Regions from separate parts of the Homo sapiens genome. Here all the other regions are linked to region 1. Evidence: fine-mapped expression QTL. A gene starts in region 1. Each other region holds a variant in brackets. All regions are shown on one strand. Distances are from middle to middle.

Region 1 (4,068 bases):
GCACTCCAGCCTGGGCGACAAGAGTGAAACTCCGTCTCAAAAAAAAAAAAAAGCTCTTCTCTATTTTCTTCTTCAAAAAATTTATATACATATTATTTATTTATTTTTGAGACAGGGTCTGGCTCTGTCTCCCAGGCTAGAGTGAAGTGGCGCGATCTCGACTCACTGCAACCTCCGCCTCCTGGGTTCAAGCCATCCTCCTGTCTCAGCCTCCCGAGTAGCTGGGACCACAGGCACGCGCCACCACGCTCGGCTAATTTTTGTATTTTTAGTAGAGGCGGGGGTTTCCCTATGTTGCTCAGGCTGGTCTTGAACTCCTGGCCTCAAGCAATCTTCCCGCTTCGCGGGGTCAATAACGATCAGTATCGATCTAGCCAGGGCAGGTCCAAGCCGTTTCCTTTAAGGGTTCCCTTCTGAACATCCTTTTCTCATTTAGACTTGGGAGGCAGGACTCAGCACCTGTTTTTTTTTTTCCATAGGCGGAGGTGATGGGCCGGTGAGGCTGGAGAGAAAGAGCCTCGGCCAGAATTCCGAACTCCGAAGCTGACCCAGCTCCCGTCCCTCACACTTCCCGGCTGAGATTTATGGCACAAAACCAGGGATCGTGGATTCTGGCATTGCATTTTGGTGCTTTTTTGCCTGCTTCATAACCAGGCCCTAATACACAGGCGATTTTCAGAGGTTGGAAAATGCGTCCTTCCCTTTCCCTCAGTTTGTGGCTTAGACGGCCACGTCCAAGTTACTTTATCAGGAGAAATCCTTAAGAAACAGTTTCACTGTGAAGTGCTCAAGTTCAAGGCTTCCGGTGGCCCCTCAGGGCCCACGCCGCTAGGAGGGAAGCCTTCAGTCCCAGGCTGGAGACAGGCCGCGTGCTCTGAAAGGGCACAAATGAGGCGACCCTGGGGCTCTGGTCCCAGAAAGTCTCTCCAGCCTGGTTCCCCACCTGTAAGTCGGGAGGGTGCACTCAGCCCTTAAGCAGGAGGCTTTAACTCCTGAAATGCTTAGTGAGAGAAACTAAAACACTTGCAGGGAGGGAAAAATCCCGGCAGAATGGCCCATCCCCCGGGGCCATTTGCCTCTCGGTCCACCCAACCCGTGGAAAAGCCGGACTTCCAGGGCGGCTCCCGGCGGCGGCTAAACTATCGGGTGGCAAGAACGCGGAAATGCGAAGCAGCTGCTGGTGGAGCCCGCAGGCCAGGGTGGGACTGTCGCCCGGGGCGGGGCTAGGAGGGGAGGGGCGGGGCGAGGAGGGGCGGGGCGAGGCGAGGTTGGCCACGGGATTGGGCTAGGTGAGGCCGACCGGGAGGGGGCGAATCTGGGGGCGGGGCGAGATGAGGGTAGTCCGAGGACTGAGCGAGCCCGGGCGGGCCCGTAGGCGAGGCGAGATGAGGCTGGCCAGGGGGCGGGGCGGGCCCGGGCGGGAGGGGCGGGGCGGGGCGGGCCCGGGCGGGAGGGGCGGGGCGGGCCCGGGGGCGGGGTGCGTCCAGGGGAGGGGCGGAGCGAGGCGGGTCCGGGGCCTGGCGGCGCGCGGAGGGGCGGGCCCTGGCCGGGTGGTCCCGGGCGGATCCCGGGAAGGCGGAAGGCTTCGGCAGAGCTGCGCCGCCGAGGCTGAGCGGTCCCTTCTCGCTGCGGCCGCCCAGGTGCCCGCGCCCGTGGCGCTATGGAGGCGGCGCTGCTGGGGCTGTGTAACTGGAGCACGCTGGGCGTGTGCGCCGCGCTGAAGCTGCCGCAGATCTCCGCTGTGCTAGCGGCGCGCAGCGCGCGGGGCCTCAGCCTTCCGAGTTTACTTCTGGAGCTGGCAGGGTAAGGCCCGGGGCGGCCGGGGCTGCCTCCTGCCCCCTCGCAGCTGCTGCCGGCTGGGAGCCCAGGAGAGCCTCGGCTCGAAGTAGGGCGGGGATGATCCCCGCGCGCCGGCGTCGCAGCTGGGCGGCCGAGGGTGAACTAGGGAGCCTAGGGGCTCGGGGTGCTCTTCCCACGGCCACCCGCCACCCGCGTACATTGTTTCTCACCAAGCCCCGCGTGGCACGAATTGATTGCGCACGCCCATTTTACAGATGAGAAAACAGACCCAGCGGAGGCAGCCCTTGGTGCGCTAGTGACAAAACCTGCTGGCCCTGAGCAAGGCCATTTGCACCTCGAGGCTGTCATATTCATTGTCCCTAAACTCACCACGCACCGTCAACCTCGTTCTCGGGCCTCGGTTTCCTCACCTGTGAAATAAGGGGTTGAACTAAGAATGTATGAATCTCTTCTCTTCTCCCGGTGATTGGTGGGGAATCTTTCCTGGTTATTTAATGAGATTCCTTGGGAGAGGGTCTTAAGACAATTGCATTTCTTGTAGAAAGAAGTTTCCTTAGTCATCTGTAAGGAAGTTGGAGAGTCTCTGCAGTTGGGAAGGGGTGACGGAAAGGTCGTTAAATCCTTGATTCTGAGGCAGCTTCTAAGGCTTTCCTATTCAAAGTATTCATCATGCCAGAGCGCCAAACTTTTGGGGTATCATTTTTGAGCCCCAACAATAGGAAAACACATACCTCAACCTAGTGGTCTCGCCCCTTCCCCCTGGCCAGGCCAGGCCTTCCCCTTTGCCCCCCGCCATCACCCAGTGGGGTCTGAAGCCTGGTCCTCCACACAAGCCTTCCTGGTGGGCGGGGTGGGGGGTGCGGCATACAGGATGGGAAGAAGCCAAGGGGTGCGGGGGAGAAAGAGGAGACCTCAGGTGTGGGAGGGTGAGGGGTCCCACTCAGGCTTTGGACCCCGCGCCGGCCCTATGGAGCCCGGCCCTGGGCACAGTCATCCAATAGGGGGCTTTGAGGGGAAATTTTTGGGAAAGGCTTGCAGTGGGAGGGACTGTGACCTCTTCCAGGCTTGTGAGTGACTCTACCCTGCGGGGTGGGGAGGGGGGGGTCCCAGGCTGGATGGCAGGGTTGAGAGGCACCCAGGGGAGGTGGGCAGCATGCGTTTCAGGTTGGTGCCACCACCAGGCTGGGAGCAGAGAGGCTGGAGCGATGAGGTTGTGGCAAAGGACACAGGCTGGAAGTGGCTGTGGTGACTGTTCAGGTGGGAGAGGGGACAAGGGCATGAAAGCCAGGAGTGGGATTTGGCCTCGGCCCCTTGCTAGGTCCCTGAGCTGGGGAAGCTGAAGCTGGACCCATGAAGGAAAAGAAGCCAGGCTGTCTGTAGAGTCTATAGATTCCCTCCTGCCGCCAGCCCCTAGGCCTGCATTTCCACCACTTTTGCAGCATTGCTTGAAAAATGCAAACCCTCAGAGATACGCAGGTGAGGGCTCCTATTAGATCTGCCAGCTGTCACCTCTCCCAGCTCACCTTAGTGAAAGCTAGACCTCTGGCAGTGGAAGGATCTTCCTGGGCATGGGAGCTCAAGGGTTGGGTGGGGCAGCAGCTTGCTGCCATCCCTGCTGGCCTGTCTAAGGGTCTTGCAGTTGATCACGTGCAGGTAAAGGGGGCTCTGTCGGGGCTGGTGCACCAGCTCTGCAGCCTCCAAGCCAGGGCCAGGGCCAGGCACACAGACTTCTGTAAAATGGGCTTGGCTGTGTCAGGACCCATCCTCCTGGCCCTCCTGTCTCCCTGCCTGCCTCCCTCATGCCCTTCCCAGCCTTGCCTGGGAGGCCCACCTGGGGCTGGCCATGCTTGCCAGCTGGGCCCCCGGGCCCCTGACCAGATCAGGCAGCAGCCGGAGTTAGAGCAGAAGGAACCCCAGGGCTGTCGCAGTCAGCCACCTGGAGGGCACGGGCCCTCTTTGGGTCTCCATTTGAGCAAACTAAGAGCCTGGTTTTGAGAGCACTGAGTCAATTGGAGCATGAAGTGTGTCTTAATAATGCCAGAAAAGCCTTTTTAGTGTGGCTTGGTGTGAAGGGCAGGAGCCTCTGCCCAGGGACCTGCCTCTGCCACCCAGGGGCATTCCTTGTAGCTGGAGCCTTCCCCCTCGCAAGTTCCCAACCTTGCTGCTTCTCCTGCCTCCAGGGCTCTGCTGGGCTCTGCCTCCCTGCTCTCTGCAGCCAGGAGCCTCCTGGAGCACAAGATTCATCCAACCTGCCCTGCCTGCAGCCTT
Region 2 (4,068 bases), 140 kb after region 1:
CAGGGACCTTTCTTGATTACTTTGCACCATGTATTGTGCAAAGCACTATACATGCATTTAACATTTTATTCCTCACAGCATATAAGTTAATACTATTGTCATACCTACATTAGTAGGCACAGAAACTGAAGCTTAAAGGTTAAAAGGTTAAAAAATGTGTCCAAGCCAGAATAGCTTATATGTAACAGAATTAAAATTTTATGATGCTCTTATAAACAATATTGAACTTAAAAGTTAATAAAATAATAAACTTAATTAGTAAAATTATTCCTCTAAAAGAATACTAAATAACAAACAAGTTTTAAAGTCAAGACAACCAAAGAAACAGTTAGTTACAGAGCATAGGAAGCATATTTCTGTGTATCTGCTGTACAGATTAGTGACCAGGAAATGTTATTTAAATGAATTTGTAACACATTTCCTCTGTTTGCTATTTCAACTCCAAACACAAATACATAACTAAAATAGTTGATATGGTTTGGATTTTTGTGTCCCTGTCCAAATCTCATGTCAAATTGTAATCCCCAATGTTGGAGGAGGGGCTTGGTGGGAGGTGATTGGATCACAGGGTAAGACTTTTCCCTGTTGTCATGATAGTGAGTGAGTACTCAGGAGATCTGGTTTAGAAGTGTGTAGCACCTCCCCCTTCTCCCTCTTCCTCCTTTCCCAGCCATGTAAGATATGCCTGCTTCCCTTTGCTTTCTGTCATGATTATAAGTTTCCTGAGGCCTCTCCAGCCACGCTTCCTGTACAGCCTAGGGAACTGTGAGTCAGTTAAACCTCTTTTCTTTATAAATTACCCAGTCTCAGGGTAATGAGCCAACAAATACACAGATGTGTTTTATAAAGAGATAATAAAGTAAAGGAAGTCTAGAAGTTAAGAAACCTGGGTTACATCATCACGGTTCTGCCATTTAGTGGCAACTTAAATTGAGGACGGCTAAGTCAACTTAATTGAGGACTGAGAATTTAGCAACTCAGAGGTTAGCAGTAACTTTGAGGAGAAAAACTTAATAGAGGAAAAGATAAAATTGTGTGACCCTACACAAGTAATTTCACCCAACTTCTAGGGCCCTCGTTTGTAAAAAAGAGTTCATAGCCTATAAAATCATTCTGGTGAGCAGTTCTTTAAAAATTGGCTATTTAAATAGTTAAAGCAAGGCCTGGCATAGGGAAAGAAACTTTCCTAGGGCAAAAGACAGGAGCAATAGGAATGTTTTTATGACTTTTCCTTGAGCCTCAGGCTCTAACATGGCTCAGCATGGCAAGATAGGACCAGTATTATTAATTTTTCCTTTTTGCCTCACATGCCAATATGGCTTGGCACAGTACTCTTCCTGATTTTGCCTTTCTTTAAAATTTTGAGTTTGATATTCTGTTCATAGTGAGTCTTTGCATTAATTTTTAAAATATTACATTAAAATATCTTGATTACTGTGGCTTTTTAGGGTTCTCCCTCAAATTTTGTTCCAAGTGCCTGAATGGCTTCACCCTAACCTCAGCCGTGGTCCTAAAAAGAGAATGAACCTTTACAATGAGAGAGGCATTAACGATAGCATATTCTGATTTTAAAAGAACGTACGGGCCAGGCGCGGTGGCTCACACCTGTAATCCCAGCACTCTGGGAGGCCGAGGCGGGAGGATCGTGAGGTCAGGAGATCGAGACCATCCTGGCTAACACAGTGAAACTTGTCTCTACTAAAAATACAAAAAATTAGCCAGGCATGGTGGCGGGCGCCTGTAGTCCCAGCTACTTGGAAGGCTGAGGCAGGAGAATGGCGTGAACCCGGGAGGTGGAGCTTGCAGTGAGCCGAGATCGTGCCACTGCACTCCAGCCTGGGTGACAGAGTGAGACTCCC[G/A]TCTCAAAAAAAAATTTAAAAAAAAGTAAGACAAAGAGAGAGAGAAAGAAAAGAAAGGAAAGAAAGGAAAGAGCAAAAAATCACATTATTGATTTGATCAAGGTTTTAGAAGAATTAAATGTAAAGTTGGTAATTGTTCTAATGGTGATAGTGCTCTGTGCTGATAATAAAGCAGCTGCTATTGCAGAGTTCTTGGATAGACATGATGCCAAACACTTTATATAACATCTCCTTATTTAATTTTCCTAACAGACTGTGGAATTATATGGTGTTAATTATATGGTGTTAATTATATGGTGGAATTATATGGTGTTAATTATACAGTCTTAATATCACCATATTTTTTAGTTGAAATTTGGCTTGGAGAACTTAAACCATTTCCCAGAACTGCACAGCTTAGAAGCATTAAGGTTGGTATTGGGCCCAATGCTGCTTTGAATAATTATTGGTATTTTTTAAATTAAATTCTGATTTTTTTCTTCTAAAATATTAAGTTGATGGGAAGATATGAATCAAATTGCATTCATAATGTAATACATTGTTTTATTATTTTATTTGTGTAATACATAATGTAACATATTGTTTAGAAACACATGAATAAAATTAAGATCAAATTATATTTGTATTACTATTTTTCTTTTTTGAGACAGAGCCTTGCTCTGTTGCCCAGGCTGGAGTGCAGTGCCATGATGTCAGCTCACCGCAACCTCCACCTCCACCTCCTCCTCCACCTCAAGTGATTCTTGTGTCTCAGCCTCCAGAGGAGCTGGGACTACAGGCGCATACCACTATGCCCGGCTACTTTTTTGTATTTTTAGTAGAGACGGGGTTTCATCATGTTGCCCAGGTTGGTCTCGAACTCCTGAACTCAGGTGATCCACCCGCCTTGGCCTCCCAAAGTGCTAGGATTACAGGTGTGAGCCACTGTGCCCAGCCTGCATTACTAGATTTCTTATGGCTTATAAATCAACAATTTTATCTTTTCCTCTATTAAAAAAAGCTTCTCTCCTCAAAAATTACATACAATGTTACCTGAAACTCCCTATAAAACAGAAAACAGGCAATTTACACACCTATTATAAAATATTAGAAAAAGTAATGCATCATCTGACTGAATCCTATTCTTAATTTAATATTGGTATTCAACTGAGAAACTACTGGCCAGATAAAATTAGAGTTGTTATTCTGATTGTAGGCAAGTTAGACTTTTTAAAAAGTATTTTCCATATTTGAAACTTGTACAGTTAAGTATCACAGATAGACTTTAGGGCAAAAAAAAAAAATCTCATCCAGGATATAACACATACATGCAAGAAAAATACCCCCAAAAGGCCTGCTGGTTTTATGTTTTATTAATTTTCCTATTTGGTGCTCACAGTACACAGAATAATTATATGGCTTCAATATTTTGATATTCATAATATCGTTCAGCAGCAGTACTTTAAATACACTGATGGCAGGATCTGTTTATATAGTGCTCCATTACAGATACTCCAGGGAAGACCAGACTACCTTAAGAGAAGGCCTGGCATGATGGCTCACGCCTGTAATCCCAACTATTTGGGAGGCCAAGGAGGGTGGATCACCTGAGGTCAGGAGTTTGACACCTGCCTGGCCAACATGGTGAAACCCCGTCTCTACTAAAAATACAAAGATTAGCCAGGCGTGGTGGTACACGCCTGTAATCCCAGCTACTTGGAAGGCCGAGGCAGGACAATCACTTAAACCCAAGAGGCGGAGCTTGCAGTGAGCCGAGATCGCGCCACTGCACTCCAGCCTGGGTGACAGAGCGAGATTCCATCTCAAAAAACAAAAGAGAGAGAGAGAGAGAGAGAGAGGAGAGAGAGAGAGAGGAGAGAGAGAGAGAGAGAGAGAGAGAGAGAGAGAGAGAGAGAGAGAAAACAAAGGGTCTCAAAGCAGAATAACCTACACTTCATGGACATTTTGGAGCTGAAGGGGCAAGATGGTGGAGGAACAACTTTTCCTATAAAGTCTATCTAGTAACTAAGAATGCTGGAGATGACAATGGCCAACTAAATTACAAAGCAACATTTGTCTGTAAAATATTTGTGGATATACAGTTAAGTAGATAGATAGCTAAGCTACTCTGAATATAGAGCTATTCCAGTATTTCTTAAATTTTGAAAAGATACAACAAACAGATAAAGTTTTGTTTATTAGAAGGTAAAACAGTTTGGTCATATTCACA
Region 3 (4,068 bases), 33 kb after region 1:
CAAAACTCCTGAGCACAGTGTACATGGAGCTTTTCAGTTGGGTTCAGACTTTCTCTCTAGTGTCACATCATCTTTTACCACTCCCTACCCTTGCCTTCTCCCAACGCCAAGCCAACACAAAATTACAAATACATAAGTAATTCTGATGACTTTGTACCTCTGCACATGACATTTTGCTTGGAACTGATTTTCCCTTATTTGTCTGCTTGTAAAATTATCCATCCTCCATTGTTTGAGATCTTTCTTAATGTCCTCAGGCAGAATTCTCCATGCTTCCCTCGTTTCCCCAAGCGCTCTGTTCATCCCTATATTATAAACAGCATTTTACATAGTACTGTAATTGCCTGTTGCTTGACTGTCTCCACCATTAACAGGGATATAGTTCAGGCCTGCGAAACTTATTGTCAAAGATGCTTTGGAAAGAGTGCATTTAATTTGGAGTTCTACCAGCAGTCCACAAAAGTACCCATTTCGTTTCTTAACCCGTGCCAGTTTGGCAGGTGAAAAATGGTTTTATGTTATAGTTTTAATTTAATGCTAATTTCTTAATACAGTAGTCCCCCCATATCCTTGTCTTCACTTTCCATGGTTTCAAGTTACCAGTGGTGAACCACAGTCTGAAAACATTAAATAGAAAAGCTCAAAACAACTTAGAAGTTTTAAACTGCCCAACGTTGTAAACAGCGTGATGACATCTTGTGCCATCCCACTCTGTCCTGCCTGGGATGTGAGTCATCCCTTTGTCCAGCATATCCATGCTTGTTAGTCACTTACTAATGGTCTTCATTATCAGATTTTAAAAAATTGTATGTGTACGGTCCAGTACTATTCGTGATTCCAGGCATCCACTGGGGGTCTTGGACTACATATCCCTTGAGATAAAGGGGGACTACTGTAATCAGGCTGATCACTTTTTTTTACATTTAACAGCTATTTCCATAATAATGCCTGCATGCGCCTCATTAATTTTGTATGGGGATGAGGCAATCTTTTTTCTCAATGATTTATAAGAACTTTTCGTATGTGAAGATACTAACTCATCTTTCTCATATATTTTGGAAATACATGGTGTTTTTTAAATTTACAAGGCTTTACTTTTGGGGTAGTTGATCTTTGGCTTTGTTTTCTTTGCTTTTATTATTTGGAAGTTCTTCCCCAATTCAAGATCAGGTATATATTCACCTATGGATTTATTTTTGACACTTCAAATTGTATATAACTTCATTATTTTCCCAAGTAGACTGTTAATTCTTTAACATTTAGAAATGAGGAAGAGCAAAGATAAGATAATAATGACACAATAGCTACTTCCTCCTTTAAGTTTTAACTGTGCTGCCATGTTTTACACTTCTTAAAACTCGGTAAGTGAGCATTTGTTACATTTTTGCTTTATACTTTTCTGCATGCATTAAATACTGCGTTAAAAAAAATCTTTAAAAGAAAAATAATTAAAGAGAAATACCCTCTAGCCAAACTGGTATATAATTTTTTTTTTTTTTTTTTTTTTTGTGTGACGGAGTCTCGCTCTGTTGCCTAGGTTGGAGTGCAGTGGTGCGATCTCGGCTTACTGCAACCTCCACCTCCTGGGTTCAAGCAATTCTCTGCCTCAGCCTCCCCAGTAGCTGGGATTACAGGCGCCTGACACCACGCCTGGCTAATTTTTGTATTTTTAGTAGAGATGGGGTTTCACCATCTTGGCCAGGCTTGTCTTGAACTCCTGACCTCAGGTGATCCACCTGCCTTGGCCTCCCAAAGTGCTGGGATTACAGGTGTGAGCCACCGCGCCCAGCCCAGACTGGTATATTTTTATCTTGCATTGAAACAAATTAGGACTCCCCAAATTGTCTTCATCAAAAATTAGCATTTTATTCACAAATTTCCTACTTTTCCAGTATGGCATTTTAATTTTAATTCAAAAGTACCAAGAAAACATTCCTGTAGAATAGCATTTCTATACATTATTTTTATGAACTGTCAATTAATTTCTAGTCTTATTTTATTTTTATTTTTTTATTTTTATTTTTTGAGACGGAGTCTCACTGTCGCCCAGGCTGGAGTGCAGTGGCGTGATCT[C/T]GGCTCACTACAAGCTCCGCCTCCCGGGTTCACGCCATTCTCCTGCCTCAGCCTCCCGAGTAGCTGGGACTACAAGTGCCTGCCACCACGCCCAGCTAATTTTTTGTATTTTTTAGTAGAGATGGGGTTTCACTGTGTTAGCCAGGATGGTCTCGATCTCCTGACCACGTGATCCACCTGCCTCGGCCTCCCAAAGTGCTAATTTTGTAGGGTGCATGTCTGTAATCCCAACTACCCAGAAGGCTGAGGCAGGAGAATTGCTTGAACCTGGAAGGTGGAGGGTTAGGGTGAACCGAGATCACGCCACTACACTCCAGCCTGGGTGACAGAGTGAGACGTCATGTCACAAAAAAAAAGAAAAAAGAAGAGAAAAAGATGTAATGATGTAATGGCAGATGACCACAAAGAAAGACACAGAGGAAAAGTTACCAAAAATGGTTAAGTGAACATTTATGGGTTCACTTTATATTTGATGTATCTAACAAAGCCAAACTTTGTTTTAAGAAGGATACCATGTCAAATTAGTTCAACTAAAGCTAGATTGACTAATGCTAAGACTAATATTAAACAAACTCAAATGAACAGCTAGATGTTAGATCACTGCTGAGACACACCAGCAATTCTGTGCCTCTGTTTTCTTGGATGACCCTTTACCATTTCCACCCATTTGTATACTGAATGGGCTTTAGTCCAGTAGAATGTTAAAAACCATCCAGCCTGAGGCTTGATTCCTCCCTGGAACCATGCTACTCAATGAGATTTACAATTTGCCTCTCTGATTGGTTCTTCTTCTAATACATCTTCCAAGGAAAAGGTCTTTAACTGTTTAGTGCTATTTATGATCTCTCACACTTTCAAATAATGTCTTTAGAGAACAAAATATCCTCAGTTCCTTCGCTTGCTACATAATACTTTCAAATGACATACTGCAACCTCTGTTATTCTCATCTATATACCATTCAATTTGTATAAGTGACTCTTAAAATGTGACATTCAAAATGGAATACTGGCCAGGCGTGGTGGCTCATGCCTGTAATCCTAGCACTTTGGGAGGCCGAGGTGGGAGGATTGCTTAAGGCCAGGCATTTGAGACCAGCCTGGGCAACATAGGGAGACCCCCATCTCTACAGAAAATAAAAACAAAAAAAAATTAGCCAGGTGTCATGGTGCATGTATGTGGTCCCACCTACTCTGGGAGGCTGAGGTGGGAGAATAATCAGTTGGGCCTGGGAGGTCAAGGCTGCAGTGAGTCATGATCGTGCCATTGCACTCCAGCCTGGGCAACAGAGTGAGACCCTGTCTCAATAATAATAATAATAATAATAAAATGCAGGTTGATTGATTCATGTAAGAGATACAGACACAATGCTAGGAGTACATGAAACAATGGAGACTCAAATGCCAAAAACAATGGAAATAATGTTGCAGATGTACAACAAAATCCAAATTATATTATAAATGTGACCACCTTTATGTTTAGAATTTCAAAGAATGTATTAAATGAATTTTTTCACAAAATATACACTACACATTTTACAGTCAATTTTGATATTAGTTTTATTTACATGCAGATATGAGGGAAAGAAATCCTTACTACTTACCGTTGCTATGACAAAATGTGTTTTTTAAAAAAATCAATGAAGAATGATTCACAGGGCAAGGCCAGAAGTTTTTTAAAAAAAAAAAAAAAAGTAACAAAAATCAAAAGTAAATGTACTCTCAAATAGACCATAATGCTGATTTGGACTGGGAAAGGAAGGTATTTGTAAGTCAGTGTACATAAAAACAGCCTGTTACATAACTGGGAGCGTGCCTCATAAACTAATTCCATATATGTTATCGTATGTAGTGAAATCATTAATGTGTCAAATAGCACAAAAGAAAAAAATGTATCAAAAGGATATTTGGAGTTATTATAGTTCTAGATCTAGACAAACCCCTTCTGGAGTCTTAATCAAAAACAAATATAACAATACCTATTCTATTCCATAGGAC
Region 4 (4,068 bases), 170 kb after region 1:
TAAAGAAAGAAAAGAATGATTAAAATAGCCCCTATGGAGAATAAAAGAATTGCAATGCAGCCCTGACAGCTCTTTCAGGGACTAGAGACCATGAATTTGCAGTACCACTAATCTGGGTAATTGTGTGTGATTTTTATCCATCACTGCTCAACAAATGCTTTTTTTGTTGGCCAAAGAGACAAACTGATCCAGAACTTAGGTTTTGCCAGATACATACGATGAAAATTCATGAGGACAAGGACACTGAGGATTCTGGCAAGAAGTTTAAAGTGATGGAAAATGGGTTCCTGCCTGCTAGTAAAGGAACCATTTAGAGATGTCAAGGAACTACAGATCTCAAAAGTTTACAGTCAGAGCCAGGACAGTGTTTTAAATTTAAGACCTCAAAGGTAAAGCCAATTTTCAGGTAATGGTGAGGTCCAGAGTAGCTCCATGGGATTAAGTGAATGAATTAAGCGAAAAGAAAGACAACTGGAGATGATGAAATTGGGAAACTATAAAGCCAGAGTCCTGGGCCCTCTGTTCACATAAACTCTAAATTCACCACGAATGGTGGCAAAGCCTTATGGGGAAAGATTGTGAGCCACATGCCTGTGTCTTCAATGAGAAAGAGAACATGGCCAAGAAAGAGGCAGAGGGGGAGTCTCATTCTGTCACCCAGGCTAGAGTGCAATGGTATAATCTCAGCTCACTGAAATCTCCACCTCCCCAGCTCAAGCAATCCTTCCACCTCAGACTCTCAAGAAGCTGGGACTACAGGTGCACACCACCACACTTGGCTAATTTTTGTATTTTTTGTAGAGACAGGGTTTCACTGTGTTGCCCAGGCTGGTCTCCAACTCCTGGGCTCAAGCTATCTGCCCACCTTGGCCTCCCAAAGCACTGGGATTAGAGGTGTGAGCCACCAAGCCCGGCCAACTGTCCGTTTTTAAAGGGGCATATGTTACTTTTGTAATTTAAAAAATGAAGTTTGTTTTATTTTGTTTTTGTTTTTGTGATAAGCTGACAAAACAGAGAAGGAGACAGAGCAATCCAGGTACACACAAGGGCAAAGAGTATAGAGAACATGGTATATTCAGATTATCAGTGAAAAGAAGACTGCCTCTATCCCTGGTCCTGCTCACTCTCTTCCCTTCCACATCTCTGATATGAAACTTCTATCCCCAAAGTCCATCATCTATGAGCCATAAACCCCACCAAGACTTTGTCTTACTATTCTCTTAGATTGTAAAGATCCATCCAAAACCCCAATGCGACTAATTACACGCAGTGAATTAAGAACACAAAAATGCCAACAATTTTCATTCATTTATTTAACACTTAGTGAAGCTAATATGTGCCAAATAATATGCTACATTTGGGGGGGGAAACAGGCTAATATCAGAGGGTTGATTTTGTATGCACATACATTGAGAGACACAAACAATATAGGCTGTTATACACATAGTTTTTCAACTGTCTGTAAAAAAGCTAAAGTTCTGTACAGTTTACAGAACACTAGCACATATAGTTAGCTTCTCACTGTATTCTTCACAACTCCTTGAAGGCAAATAGTCCTATAAATTACTCACAATCAAGAAGATAATCACTAGAACATCTCATTAATTAACACCAGTCTTAGCTTTTCTGACTCCAAATCCAATGTTCTTTCCACTATACTACTCTCTCTTTTAAAAATACACTTGAAACTATTCACAACAGCAAAGACTTGGAACCAACCCAAATGTCCAACAATGACAGACTGGATTAAGAAAATGTGGCACATATACACCATGGAATACTATGCAGCCATAAAAAATGATGAGCTCATGTCCTTTGTACAGACATGGATGAAATTGGAAATCATCATTCTCAGTAAACTATCGCAAGGACAAAAAACCAAACACCACATGTTCTCACTCATAGATGGGAACTGAACAATGAGAACACATGGACACAGGAAGGGGAACATCACACTCTGGGGACTGTTGTGGGGTGAGGGGAGGGGGGAGGGATAGCATTAGGAGATATACCTAATGCTAAATGACGAGTTAATGGGTGCAGCACACCAGCATGGCACATGTATACATATGTAACTAACCTGCACACTGTGCACATGTACCCTAAAACTTAAAGTATAATAATAATTTTTTTAAAAATGCAAAAAAAAGAAA[C/CA]AAAAAAAAATACACTTGAAATTAAAAATTCAAGTCATTTTCCTTCATTTTTTGCCCATCTTCACTACCTTGGTGGGGAAACTCTTAAGAAAAAAATTCATTTTAACCTTCATATGTTAATGAGATCAAACAGGGATCCTCTTTATGTACTTTGGTGGAATTTTATTAATAGAAAATCATTTGAAATAAGGCATTGTTCAGATTTTTAAACTTTTATTTCACAGATCTGTTGTAACTAGAGTCAAACTGAGTAGTTCTGTTTAAAAGAAGGGGAAAGCACATTAAAACACTACACCAAATATTTACATTATATCATCCAGAAAGACAAAACTTCCCTATACTAAAAGCTTGTAACAATCCCATCTCCAAAAAAAAAAAAAACCGTAACTTCTTAAAAATTTATTCACTGTTATATTTTATGACTTCCCTCAGAAGAAAATTTTACAAGCCAATTTTGTACTAGAGTTTCCTTTTATTAGTTCTAAATTTAGTTTTATTTGTATCATCTGCTGTTCTCCTATTATGGAAATGTCTTAAAAATGGAAAACAATCTGTTTTCCAGCATTCAAAATTTATAACTTTACAGCCTCCCCATTTTTACAAAAAAAAAAAATTGCTTGCAGCAGAAATTGTTTTACAAAACTATCAGCAAAATCCTTTAGGTGCGTTTTCTCGTTTTTGTGATTAAATTCTTTAAATGTTCTCTTGCTTTTGTGATTAAATTCTTCTTTAACCTGAATATAACAACATAAACATTATCCATATTCTAATTTTAAATGTTGCAACCATGAGTTGCATATTCCGTTTAAGCTACAGCAAGAAATAATGCCTGAGAATATTTTTAGCATGAACATGTCATAACTGACTCATGAAGTCTCAAATTAATTGCATTTTTTTCAAATATTTAGAAATGCTGGAGCATCTTGTACAACACTGAGGTATTATGGAATTAGGAATTCTCATCACCAGATTGTAAAATGTTTCTAACTGGAAAAATACTTCCAATAAAAATGTTTCTAAATCATCCATAACACTCTTCTAAAAATAACTGCAGAAATATATTCAGTCAGTGAAAGAAGCATCACCTAGTTTCAGATTTCACATTTCTAATTATCTTTCTATTCAGCAATTATTTGAAAACAATATTTCAAAAGATAAAATGTCATAAATCTTTAGGGCTTTAAAGATACTTTTATTATATGTCACTCTAGAGCCCCACGTTATTGAATTGTGCCTTGGCCACAGGGTATGTAGTTTTGTTAGCCATGAGATAAAAATCCCACAAACTATAACTCTAAAACAACAAAGTTATCTGAAAAAGGTGATACATTTTTCAAAATCATACTAATATTTTCATATTTAATATACAAAATACTTTTACAGGGATTTCAACATACAAAAACACATTTTTCACTAGATCTTGTAGGCATCAAAGCTCATGACAACTGTGCTAATACACTTTCTTTTCCTTTTGGTTTTAAAACGAAAAACTTTTAAGAACCCAAGAAGCGGAGGCTGCAGTGAGCCGATATCTCACCACTGTACTCTAGCCTGGGTGACAGAGACTGCGTCTCAAAAAAGTCTCAAAAAAAGGAGAAGGGGGAGGAAGGAGGAAGACAAGGGAGGAGGGAAGATGAGGAGGGAGGAGGGAGGAGGAGGAGGGAGGAGGAGGAGGGAGGGAAGAGGAGGAGAGAGGAGGGAGGAGAGAGGAGGAAGGGGAGGAGGAGGGGGAGGAAGAGGGAGGAGGAGGGGGAGGAAGAGGGAGGAGGAGGGAGGAAGAGGAATGAGGAGGAGGGAGGAGGAAGAGAGAGGAGGAGGGAGGAGGAGAGGAGGAGGGAGGAAGGGGGGAGGGAGGAGGGAGGAGGGAGGAGGAGGGGGAGGAGAAGGAAAGAGGAGGAGGGAGGAAGGAGCAGAA
Region 5 (4,068 bases), 470 kb after region 1:
ATGAGCTGGATTTTGTTAGGCATGAAATCAGGTGGTGATGAATTAACCTGCCATACCTAGTACAGAACTGAGGTCACCACCTCCCTGTATAAGGAAGGGAGGAATGCAAAACCTGTGAATTGAAGAGTGTTGCTCAGGAAGTGCTAAGTGACAATGACGACACCCTTGCTGATTTGTCACCATTGGAATATTCTGAAGGCTGTGGTTAATAGAGGATAAAAGACGTGTATGTTTACTTATTAATTTGGAGTTATCAAAACGAGTACACGTGTTCACCTCTCCTCCCCCGGTGTCTTGATTTTTCCCTCCCTCAGGGATCCCCAACATCCATGGTGTGCTGGCGCTGCAGTGTACCGGGGCCATTGCGATTATAAACTTAGACTAGAAAAATTTGGTAAATGCCGTGAGAAAGGAAATGACTGTGTTAGTCCGTTTCACGCTGCTGATAAAGACATACCTGAGACTGGGTAATTTATAAAGAAAAAGAGGCTTAATTGACTCACAGTTCCACGTGGCTGGGGAGGCTTCACAATCGTGGTGGAAGGTGAAAGGCACGTCTTATATAGCAGCAGGCAAGAGAGAGTGAGAGCCCAGCAAAAGGGGAAACCCCTTAGAAAACCATTGCATCTCGTGAAAATTATTCAGTACCATGAGAACAGTATTAGGGAAACTGCCCCCATGATTCAGTTATCTCCCATCAGGTCCCTCCCACAACATGTAAGAATTATGGGAGCTACAATTCAAGGTAGATTTGGGTGGGGACACAGACAAACCATATCAGTGACCCACCAGTCTCCATTTCAAACCAACAACTTTATTGTCCTTGCTCTCAGAATAGATCCCTTGCACTGAGGATCCTTCTCGTAGGCCAGTCTCTAATGAAGGCTGAGTGTTAAAATCTTAATCGGCGAGGTCATTTGAAAAACAAGCAGGGGCCGGGTGTGGTGGCTCACGCCTGTAATCTCAGCACTTTGGGAGGCTGAGGTGGGTGGATCACCTGAGGTCAGGAGTTCAAGACCAGCCTGGCTAACATGGCAAAACCCCGTCTCTACAAAAAATGCAAAAATTAGCCAGGTTTGGTGGCGTGCACCTGTAATCCCAGCTACTCAGGAGACTGAGGCAGGAGAATCACTTGAACCTGCGAGGCGGAGGTTGCAGTGAGCTGAGATTGTGCCACTGTACTCCAGCCTGAGCGACAGAGCAAGACCTTGTCTCCAAAAAACAAACAAAAACAGAAAAACAAGGGGCAGTTCATCTGCATTCAGAGCTGGCATGTTAAGTTGGCAATCGATTTAAATTGTTGTATAGCGGATCTTTACATAGGTGCTGATGAAATATTTTTAGTCTACAGTAAGACATGATATGGACAGTGCCTTAATTAGTTTATTCCACTGACACTTTGTGGCCCTTCGTTGTCTCCTTTGACCAGCTGTCACGTCAGGGCCCAGGGAGGTGAGAGGCAGTCCTCCCCAACCAGACAGAATCCTGTTGTCTGGTCATTTGAGCATTTTTGGTTTCTGTTTGAGCAGGCAGGGGATAATGTTTGCTTTGCTCCCTGCTGCTTTTTAATCCTGGGGAATTTGGTGCAGACAGAGGGATGTCCCGGAAGCCGGAGGACCTTTATGTGCGGCGTCAGACGGCACGGATGAGACTGTCCAAGTACGCAGCGTACAACACTTACCACCACTGTGAGCAGTGCCACCAGTACATGGGCTTCCACCCCCGCTACCAGGTAGGCCCCAGCAGTTCCCCACCAGGCATTTCACCTTGGCTCACATTGTCC[G/A]TTCCCCTGCTCTCTCACGCTTTCATTCCAGAGTGGGAGATAGAGAGTTCTGGAAGCCCTGGCTTCCTGGTCTGCTTGCATCCTCTGTTCCCTTCAATTGTCTGTGAAATGATTGCTGGAACTAGAGCACCACGGTTCTCCTGGGGTTGTGTGTTTATCAGTGGCCAAGTTACCCGACCGTGGAGGTGGTCGTCATCTTTAGGTCCCAATGCTTTCAGAAGTTAGTCCAATGCAACAGATGCTCACCAGGTGCTTATTCTGTACCAGGCACTGGGGCTGCAGAGCTGAATCAACTCTGTCCCCATCCTCCATGCTCAGTCTAGAAGGGAGATGTGCACATAAGCAAAACCTAACGATATGAAGCAGGCAAAAGGAGTACTATGGTTGAGGCACAGAAATCCATTGATAAGAGGAGGAATTTGCATTTATTGAGCACCTACTGCATGCCAGGCAATGTGCCTAGGCACTTTTTATATATCAGTCTCTCCCAACCTTTTATGCAATAGAAAATATTTATCCTGGACACATAGAAATGGATAAGGCTCCTGACCCAGGGCTCTGGCTGCCTCAGGCCCTGGTGGGTCACCTGAAGCCACGCCTGCAAGCCACCCAAGGTGTGCTGGATGGGAGCTGTCCTATCTAGTGTCCTATTTACTTCACACTAAAATTTCATTGTCCCTGTTTTATAAATGAGGATCCTGTTTGGGTCGGGAGCGGAAGAGAGAAGATTTGGAAGAATTAATAAGAATTTGCCAAGGTGCCAAGAATTAATAAGATGAAGGGAGAGGGACAGCATGTGTGGGAGAGGGGAGGTGGGGTTTCCAGGGGATGGGAAGTGATGTGGGTTGGGTGTTTCTGGAACCCAGACTTTGGGGTGGGTACACTCAGCCACGAAACTCGGAGGGCAGGCAGAGGCCAGACCACAAAATGCCTGGTGGGCACTGTGGGGAGGAACGAGGACTCTCTCAGTGGGAACTCCAAGTGGAGCCCAGTGTGGGCAGAGCTGTGTTTAGACTGGTCTCTTAGTCCCATGGAGGTGTATGGAGGGCCTGTGAGGCTGGTTATTTATAAACAGGGCAGAGGATTTATTTTACATTGAATATTTCTTTTCATTTCAGACCCGAGCAAGGGAGAGAGGGGTGGAGGGAGAGAGCCAGAGTTGGTGGGAGCTAGTCAGATGCCTGGCTGGGGAGCAGAGGCATGTAGGGTAGCTGATGTCCTGGGCTGCTTTCAGAAAGGCCTGAGGCAAGAGCACTGGCCTCTCTTTCCATCCCTTTTACAGAGGGAAACAGCACCTGTCTGCCTGGCCTTGAGCTTGGCTGCCGGGGACGCAGCACTCATTGTTTGAGTGTGCAATTGTACTGTAGATGAAAGAAAGAACATATGAGCAATTTTTTAAGGGTCAAAATAATCAGTAATCCCATTTGTTCCAGATAAACTCTCCTAACATTTTGTTTCTTGGAGATGTAGTTTTTCTTTTAAGGCAAACAAAAACATACATGAAAACACGTCCTTGATTTTGAAATGTAGGGAACTGAAAGGGACTGAAGGGTGTCAGTCCCTACTCATCCCTGTCAGTGTCAGGAGTGGGTAGTGCCATCAGGACCTCGGGCTGCATCAACAGACACCAGAGTGCAGAGGAGGAGGAGAGGCAGCCGGCTGGGCTGTGCCTGGCCTGTGTTCTCAGGGGTGCGCAGGTCTGGGGGCCACAGTGGAAGAGGAGCATGCCTGGGACGGTGAGGGGGCTTGAAACCAGCTGGTGCGGGTGCAGAGGCCGCGTGGCCCCCTGGCTGCCCTCTCCATGTGGCCTGCACCTGCTCGTTCTGTTTTCTCTTCCTTTGCCTCCCAAGGCTCCCTTGACCTTTTTTATGAAACTGCCTCAGTGTGTCCTCCTTAACTGCCTCCCCGAGTCAAAATCCCTTTCTCCCTCATCTCTGCTCCCAAAGAAAGGGCTCTGTGGGTCTAGAAGAGCCATGGCAGAGATTAAAGCAGTGTGTGCTCGTCTGCCTCCTTCCCTGCAGACCCTGGATGCATGCATAGCACATGCTAGGAGGGGATGTCAGTAGGAAGGGCCGTGGGTCGGTGGGGTCGTAAGAGGACGTTCAAGCTGAGGGCAAAGCTGCGCTGGAGGTCACACCCAGAGCAGCACGTGCACAGATGTGGGGTGTGAGGCTCCTGGGAAGTGGAGGCTGGAGGAGGTGACTAAGGGCGCAGCCAGACTTGGTGACTTGGTGACAGAGCCCAAGGTCTCTGAATGTCAGTTTTCACACCTGTAAAATGGGGAT
Region 6 (4,068 bases), 70 kb after region 1:
TGTGTAAGTTTGAACGAGGGTGTGAGCATCCTCTTGTATATGTTGGTCCTTTGACAGGATGACTCCTATCACAAATATAAAACGGGACATTAGAAAAAAATGGAATGGGGTGAACAAAGAAGAGAAATCAAATAGTTTTCTAGCTTATCTTTTGGGGGCAGGTTTTCACACCTTTGTTCATCTATTTTGTTTTTAAAAGTATGGAATTTCCAGGATAGTCTTGCTCATATTCAAATGCAAATTAAAAAGGGTTGGGAAGGAAGCACTCCCAAGTCTAACACAAATAGTTTTTAAGATTATAACCTGTTGAGTATTTATCTACACAAAATACTCTCAAAAGTTATATAAGAGTAATATGGAATAACCAGCTTGGAGGATAAAATGTGAACAACACGAAAGTTTTATTTCTTTCAAATCCATTGTTTTACCACGTTCTATTTTTTCCTTTTTAGACATGAGGGTTAAGGTTAGAGTTCGATTACAACTGGGCTGTACACACATAACAACAAGGTAGCCCAACACCAGGCTTAGCAGAAGGAAAAGGCTAACCCAGAATTAGATGCTACTTGGGTAATGAGAGGCAGACTGATTTCATATGTTAATAAGCTAGGCATGCTTTTATTTCTATAAATTTAACATAAAGGGCTTCTCTACAAAGAAATTCAATGTACATTACCTATCTGTTAAGAAAGCACAGATGAGATTCTTTGCATGTTTGGAAATTTCTGCATCTTCAGGGAAACACAGTGAATTCTTATGATCCATAATTTTGCTATATGTTCCTACAAGTGAATCCGCATAAAATGGAGTATCCCCTAAAATTTCAAGAAAGAAGATACTGAATGTAACAGAGAATGCAAAGGAAACACTTTTCACCTAGTACTTAAATATGTTAAGTTTAAATTTGTCACATGCAGGGAAGAACAAATATTCTACGGGCACAGAGTCCCAGTCAAAACAACAGACATATTGTTATATTCTAAATCAAAGAATATATTTAAAATTTAACACCACCAATGATCCCTCATCCCTTAAAAGCAAAATAAAATCAATGATAACTCCCGAATTTGTTGAGTTTTTTTTTTTTTTAATTTAAGAGAGGAAATGTTTTACTGAATAGTCCAAGAGAAAGAGTTCCTATGTGGGGTCAGATCAGTCAGGGTCCTTTAATGCTTGGGCTGGATCAGCATTTTGAAATCATTCTCTAGAGATATGTTATACAACACAGTTGCCACTAGCTATAGGTGGCAATTTAAAGTTAAAATGAATTAAATAAAATGAAAAACACAATTCCCTAGTTATACTAGCCACATTTTAAGTCATGTTGTAACCAATGGTCACCACACTGGACAGCACAGATTTAAATCATTTACATCATGATAGGCCAGACAGGGCTGCTGCAAGAGTTAAACCAGCTCTATTATTTTACATAAGAGGAAGTCAGGCCCAGAGAGACAGACTGTGACTAGCTTAAAATGACATATAGCTAGAGTTGAAAGAGGGAAGAAATGGTCTCCCCATGCAGTGTTCTTACTAATGACTGTAATAGATGCACTGAAGCAAGTATAAAGATGGAAAATGTTGAAGGCACCATTTTGGCCAGTACTCAGCTAAAGCCACAAGTGTTACAGGCTCTGCCAGTACACCTAC[A/G]CTACAAGTAACTTTAATGAAAACCTGACTTTCCCAAATCAGCCAATCCAAAACTTCAAAAAATGTCTTCAGGTAGTTATTTTTGTTTGTGTTCAAAGAAAGGTGGAGGGAAGTGATGAATTCAAGATTTTATTTTTTATTTTTTAATTTATTTTTTAACTTTTTAAACTTTCTTATGTTAAAAATTTTTTATTTATTTTAATTTTACTCTTTTATTATTACTTTTTTAGACACAGTATCTCATATGTTCCCCAGGCTGGCCTTGAGCTCCTGGGCTCAAGTGATCTTCCTGCCTCAGCCTCCTGAAGAGCTGAGCTAGCACCACCCAGCCTGGCAGTCGTGAGAATTTAAATGGCCTCTTCATCAAATAAGCCAAATTACTTCCTCTAAAGTACCTTATTTTGTAAATCCCTAGGAAAGCGTGTCTAGGCAAAAAAGAGAATATACTCTATTTTCAAAAGATTACAAGACACAACCTAGGCCAGAGATGGGAGAACGGACAGCTACATGGGACCATATGATGCGTACAAACAGACTCACTTTGAAAGGCCCAAAATAAAGTAGGTCATACTATGACATGAAACAAAGCATAACAAGATCAATGCTACATACACAAGACAGTCATCAAGAGAAAACAATTTATGCCACAAAAAAGTTCAAGAGTAATTATTATTTAAATTTGCAATTTACCGAAAATTTCTGATTTTTTAGCAATAACCATAGTCTTTTATCATACAGGTTTTACACTACCATTTCTTTTAGGCTCATCTTTTAGAAAATATATTCTCTAATTCTAAAAAGTATATTTTTAACTCTAATTAATTCCATATTATGTTATTAGCCTTGACATACTTGCCTTGGAAAGTGGATTTAACTACATTTTCAACCCTCATCCCCATGCCACGTCACTGGCTTCCTTAGCCAGAAGGTACTAGTATTTTTATGACCCCAGTACTTACAAATGGGAAACATTAGGAATGAAATCTATGATGTAAAGAAAGTTTTGAAATACTTCAGCCTTTCAAATTTTGATTTGGTCATAAAAAAGAAGAAATAACTAAATCTGTCTCTGAGTTTTCTAAAACTGAAATGTTATTACAAAATATATTTATCTTGATAATCAAATGGTAAACACTGTATTTATAATTTATTTCACGAGAATTACAAACAATATATATGCAAGAAGTAAATGGAAGGAATACAGTTGTTTACGAAATCAATTATGTAATTACATAAACTAAAGAGATTTTTACTTCTCTACTACTATTGGGACAAATATTAAGTCTTATATTTAAATATTATAACAAATATGATTGATCAAGAAAATCTTAGAGGGCTAGGTGTGGTGGTTCATGCCTAAAATCCCAGCACTTTGGGAGGCTGAGGTGGGAGTAACACTTGAGGTCAGGAGTTTGAAACTAGCCTGGGCAACATGATGAGACCACTCCCTACAAAAAATGAGAAAAATCAGCCGGGTTTAGTGGCATGTGCCTGTAATCCTAGCTACTCGGGAGGCAAAATGGGATGATCACTTGAGCCTAGAAGGTCAAGGCTGCAGTGAGCCACATTCATGCCACTGCACTCCAGCCTGGGCAACAGAGCGAGACCCTGCCTCAGAAAAAAAAAAAAAAAAAAAAAAGAAGGAAAATCTTAGAATGAAGGCCCACTGAAGCTGTAAACTTGCTTCTTGTTCTAATATTTTAATTCAAAAATGTCTGATATATTTTTAATTCTTTTTACATTCTACTTATTCTATTTAATCACCATGCCAGTATCAGGCTTGGTATTAATTTTCCAATTAACAGTCTGCCCTATCAGATACTACTAATTCAAAGTTTCCAGAAATCTAATTCTTCCCTACGACAAAGGCAATTAATTTCCTTATATTCTCAAATTCTTGACTGAAATAAAGTATTATAAGAAGCATTTTGAAAAAAGAAGTTAAAATATTTACTTACCCACTAGCATCTCATAAAGGAAAACACCTACAGACCACCAATCACATTCTCGCCCATAGAAACCATCACCCCCTTGTGATTTCAGAACCTCAGGTGATATATAATCCGGTGTTCCAACTGCTGTATCACAATGTACCATGCCTGTCTGCATGAACAGGAGAGATAAAGAAAAAACAGTTCAGTGTAAAAACACACACTTATAAATGCAATGAATCCATTTATTACTAGATATACAATGATTACATATTGCTAACCAACAGAACTTCACTGCTGACATGACTTCAGGATACAGAGAATAAATACACTGGAAAATGCATTAAAATGCCTAAATTATGGGAGATAGGAATAAACTGTGAACTCTAAAATACAGGAGGCTTCCTCAATGAAAGAAGAAAAAAGTTTGGTAAAATGGAGATTCCATGCAAATCAACAACTTTTCTTTTTCTTATTTCTTACACTA
Region 7 (4,068 bases), 210 kb after region 1:
TTGGCATTCAGACAGTCAGAAAGGAAATTGAGAGTAAGGAAATAAGCAAAAAATGTCCTATGTGAATAGGCAGAGAGGCAGAGCAGATGTCATAAAGCCTGTGCACTGCATTTTAGCCTTTTGCTCAAGTCTTTATCTTCTAGACCCAATCCTAACAAACCAATGATGTATTACGAAAAAGCAGACAAAACGCATGGCGTAGTGATGCTGGGACACTACCAGAAATAATAGGGTGTGAGAGGAGTGGATGCCATAGAATTAATGCAGAAGAAAAACAGATTGGAGCCCTCTAGCGGGGGGGCAAATAGTCCTCTAGTCCTCCGAGCTTCCACCATCTCCACCTCCATGGACAGCACTACATGGTGCCCAGCATTGACAATCACAGAGATGCCCGAATTATCAGGAACATGTTAAACTACCTGCTAGATCCTCTCAGAAGGCAGCCACGTGTAGGCTGGGTGCAGTGGCTCATGCCTGTAATCCCAGTACTTCGGGAGGCTGTGGCAGGTGGATCACTTGAGCCTAGGACTTTGAGACCAGCCTTGACAACATGGTGAAACCCTCTCTCTACAAAAAATACAAAAATTAGCTCGGCATGGTAGTACGTGCTTATGGTCTCAGCTACTCAAGAGGCTGAGGTGGGAGGATCACCTGAGCCTGGGAGGCAGAGGTTGCAGTGAGCCGTGATCACACCACTGCACTTCAGCCTGGAGCCTGGGTGACAGAGCAAGACCCTGTCTCAAGGAAAAAAAAAAGGGGGGCAGGGCAGCCAAGTGTATATAAGCTATTTAAAAACAAAAACAAAGTTTTAAAAATTATGTGTTTGTTCAAAAGGTTAAGATTTTCCCCAAGATATTCTCACAGTTTGTGCCCCTTCTTCTCAGGTCTTTGTTCATTTTTTGTGTGTTTTTGTGATGGAGTCTCGTTCTGTCACCCAGGCTGGAGTGCAGTGGCATGATCTCAGCTCACTGCAACCTCTGCCTCCTGGGTTCAAGTGATTCTTCTGCCTCAGCCTCCCCAGTAGCTGGGACTACAGTTGTGTGCCACCATGTCTAGCTAATTTTTCTATTTTCAGTAGAGACAGGGTTTCGCCATGTTGGCCAGGCTGGTCTTGAACTCCTGACCTCAAGTGATCCACCTGCCTTGGCCTCCCAGAGTGCTGGGATTACCGGCGTGAGCCACCGCACCCGACCTACAGGTCTTTGTTCAAATGTCACTTCCTGAACCCCTTGATTCAAATTGCAACCCCACCCCACTCCTAGCCACCCCACGCCCAAGCCCCTTTTCTTACCATATTTTTCTTTTTTCTTTTCTTTTTCTTTTTTTTTTTTTGAGATGGAGTCTCGCTCTGTCACCCAGGCTGGATTACAGTGGCATGATCCCGGCTCACTGCAAGCTCCGTCTCCCGGGTTCACGCCATTCTCCTGCCTCAGCCTCCCAAGTAGATGGGACCACAGGCACCCGCCACCACGCCTGGCTATTTTTTTTTTTTTTTTGTATTTTTTTAGTAGAGACGGGGTTTCACCATTTTAGCCAGGCTGGTCTCGATCTCTTGACCTCGTGATCCACCCACCTCAGCCTCCCAAAGTGCTGGGATTACAGGCGTGAGCCACCGCACCTGGCCTAACCATATTTTTTTATACCACTTATCACCTAATATAATATATAACCGAGTGGTTATTATCCATGTCTAGCATCCCCCAAAAATGTAAACTCCATGAGAGTAGACGTTGGTCTGTCTGTTTAGTTTCCTGCTGTGTTATGGGGAAACTGTGCGTCTGGCACCTATAGGCCTCCATTATTATTATGATGATGATTTATTTATTTATTTTTGAGATGGAGTCTTGCTCTGCCGCCCAGGCTGGAGTGCAGTGGCGCGATCTCGGCTCACTGCAAGTTCCGCCTCCCAGGTTCACACCATTCTCCTGCCTCAGCCTCCCAAGTAGCTGGGACTACAGTCTCCCACCACCACGCCCCGCTAATGTTTTGTATTTTTAGTAGAGACGGGGTTTCACCG[C/T]GTTAGCCAGGATGGTCTTGATCTCCTGACCTTGTGATCTGCCCTCCTCAGCCTCCCAAAGTGCTGGGATTACAGGCGTGAGTCACGGCGCCTGGCTATTACTATTATTATTATTTTTTTGAGAGAAAGTCTCACTCTGTCACCCAGGCTGGAGTGCAGTGGCGCGTCCTTGGCTCACTGCAACCTCCACCTCCCGGGTTCAAGTGATTCTTGTGCCTCAGCCTCCCAAGTAGCTAGGATTACAGGTGCTTGCCACTCTGCCTGGCTGATTTTTGTATTTTTAGTAGAGTCGGGGTTTCACCACGTTGGGCAGGCTGGTCTCAAACTCCTGACCTCAGGTGATCCACCCGCCTTGGCCTTCCAGAGTGCTGGGATTACAGGTGTGAGCCACCGCACCTGGCCAGGCGTTCGTTGTTGGATGAAAGCATGAGTGAATAAATTTAGTTATTTGGAAGACATATTTACATTGTTAAAAGTCATTCTATGGAAATACTGGCTAAGGGCACAACAATTATATGAGAATTTTTTAACACAGGGCATATTAATTCATTGGCAAGTATTTATCAAGGTCACACTCTATGCAGATGCTGTGCATTGGAGATTTGCTTATTTTGTTTCCACCCACACTTTTGAGTTCCTAAAGCCTTTACCAAGTATTCCACATGCAGAGTCACTGACACACTACACATCCATGCACACATGCACGTGCACACACACAGACACACACACAGACCTGACACTCTGGTTCCTTCTTATAGCCATGCTTCGATCTTATCAGCTCTCTTATGTAAAAGTTTGACAAGTCTGGTCTATGTCGCCTTCAGAAAATTCTTAGAAATAGGAAATGATTATATTGATTAGAAATGATAATGTTTTCCCAGGAGTGAGCCTAGAATCATTATTTAACCACCGTTTATTGTAATGTTGGAGGCAGACATTGGATCTTGAGGAGTACACTGGGCATAGAGCAAAAACTTGAGTCCTAGCCCTGGATCCATCATTTAAGAACTGAATGATTCTGGCAAGTGACTTAACCACAAATAGCTAGTTCAGAGGTCTTTTTTTTTTTTTTACAGGACTTTGTAAGTTATAAAGTGCTACACAATTTTAAGGAATCATCATTATTTTGTTGAAAAGTAAAATAATGTATGACACAGCACTAGAATTAGGGATGAGATCTTGGTGATTCATGACTCTTGATATGCATGGGTATCAGTCTTGCTATCTCAGACAACTTCTGATGGAATTTGCTGTGCAACCTTCACATTTACGACCTCAGTTTCATCATGTGCAAAACAAGGTTTCTACCTAGTTCCAGCATGCTGGGATGATTTCTCTGACTGATTACAACTGACAGGATCAGTAAGTCTGTAGCAGGAATTGGGATGGATTCCCGTTGGCCCTGAAGCCTGGCGTGATGTTTCTCTAAGCGTGAAACTAAACTTTCTTAATTCATGCCCTCATTCATTCATTCAATAAATATTTATTGAATATCAGTTGGTGGCAGAGGCTGTACTAGATGTTGGGAATAACAAACGGAAGAAGACAAAAGTCCCAGTACTATCAGTGATCAAAGTTGAGTCAGAGAGCAGATTTTTTTTTTTTTTTTTTTTTTTTTGAGGCGGAGTTTCGCTCTGTTGCCCAGGCTGGAGTACAGTGGCGCAATCTCGACTCACTGCAAGCTCCGCCTCCCGGGTTCATGCCGTTCTCCTGCCTCAGCCTCCCGAGTAGCTGGGACTGCAGGCGCATGCCACCACACCAGGCTAATTTTTTTGTATTTTTAGTAGAGACGGGGTTTCACCGTGTTGGCCAGGATGGTCTCGATCTCCTGACCTCGTGATCCGCCCACCTCGGCCCCCCAAAGTGCTGGGATTACAGGCGTGAGCCACCGCGGGTGTACACACTAGGAGCCGTGAGGAGAGAGGAGCAAGGTTCAGGGGCCCACAGAGGCAGGCTTGCTCACTTTGTCTAGGAGAAACAGATGGGGCTTTGCACGGAGAAAACGTTTCAGTGGGACATCAGAGGAGAGGTGGGAATTAGCCAGGCAGGGG

Direction of the effects. Positions count from the first base shown, and alleles are read on the strand shown. Sizes are in standard deviations (SD) of each study's normalised expression. Not every link is listed here.
With allele G in place of A in region 2, the expression in tibial artery of the gene that starts at base 1,581 in region 1 is lower (moderate effect, 0.50 SD a copy in GTEx).

Evidence for each region.
Region 2: its variant is fine-mapped to the expression of SLC66A3 in tibial artery (GTEx, PIP 0.93).
Region 3: its variant is fine-mapped to the expression of SLC66A3 in monocytes (TOPMed, PIP above 0.99). The same link has a PIP of 0.9 or more in T cells.
Region 4: its variant is fine-mapped to the expression of SLC66A3 in whole blood (INTERVAL, PIP above 0.99).
Region 5: its variant is fine-mapped to the expression of SLC66A3 in lung (TOPMed, PIP above 0.99).
Region 6: its variant is fine-mapped to the expression of SLC66A3 in whole blood (TOPMed, PIP above 0.99).
Region 7: its variant is fine-mapped to the expression of SLC66A3 in lung (TOPMed, PIP 0.97).

The regions. Positions count from the first base shown.
Region 1 is chr2:11,153,887-11,157,954 of GRCh38, forward strand. It overlaps SLC66A3 (solute carrier family 66 member 3), which reads left to right and starts at 1,581. Exons shown (of 7, transcript NM_152391.5): 1 at 1,581-1,803. The coding sequence starts at 1,661. It also overlaps a transcript of CIMIP5 not described here. RefSeq lists silencers at 1,168-1,647, 1,758-1,997.
Region 2 is chr2:11,292,294-11,296,361 of GRCh38, forward strand. All of the region lies in intron 1 of ROCK2 (Rho associated coiled-coil containing protein kinase 2), which reads right to left. Among named protein-coding and RNA genes, the nearest start is that of ROCK2, 50 kb to the right of the region's middle. The variant G/A (reference allele first, on the strand shown) is at 1,860.
Region 3 is chr2:11,186,619-11,190,686 of GRCh38, forward strand. All of the region lies in intron 32 of ROCK2 (Rho associated coiled-coil containing protein kinase 2), which reads right to left. Among named protein-coding and RNA genes, the nearest start is that of SLC66A3, 33 kb to the left of the region's middle. The variant C/T (reference allele first, on the strand shown) is at 2,074.
Region 4 is chr2:11,326,947-11,331,014 of GRCh38, forward strand. The region is part of intron 1 of ROCK2 (Rho associated coiled-coil containing protein kinase 2); the gene reads right to left. Among named protein-coding and RNA genes, the nearest start is that of ROCK2, 16 kb to the right of the region's middle. The variant C/CA (reference allele first, on the strand shown) is at 2,154.
Region 5 is chr2:11,625,373-11,629,440 of GRCh38, forward strand. It overlaps GREB1 (growth regulating estrogen receptor binding 1), which reads left to right. Exons shown (of 33, transcript NM_014668.4): 25 at 1,590-1,732. Among named protein-coding and RNA genes, the nearest start is that of NTSR2, 43 kb to the right of the region's middle. The variant G/A (reference allele first, on the strand shown) is at 1,784.
Region 6 is chr2:11,223,646-11,227,713 of GRCh38, forward strand. It overlaps ROCK2 (Rho associated coiled-coil containing protein kinase 2), which reads right to left. Exons shown (of 33, transcript NM_004850.5): 6 at 3,609-3,753; 7 at 677-815. Among named protein-coding and RNA genes, the nearest start is that of SLC66A3, 70 kb to the left of the region's middle. The variant A/G (reference allele first, on the strand shown) is at 1,651.
Region 7 is chr2:11,359,759-11,363,826 of GRCh38, forward strand. The region is part of intron 2 of PPIAP60 (peptidylprolyl isomerase A pseudogene 60); the gene reads left to right. Among named protein-coding and RNA genes, the nearest start is that of PPIAP60, 10 kb to the left of the region's middle. The variant C/T (reference allele first, on the strand shown) is at 2,018.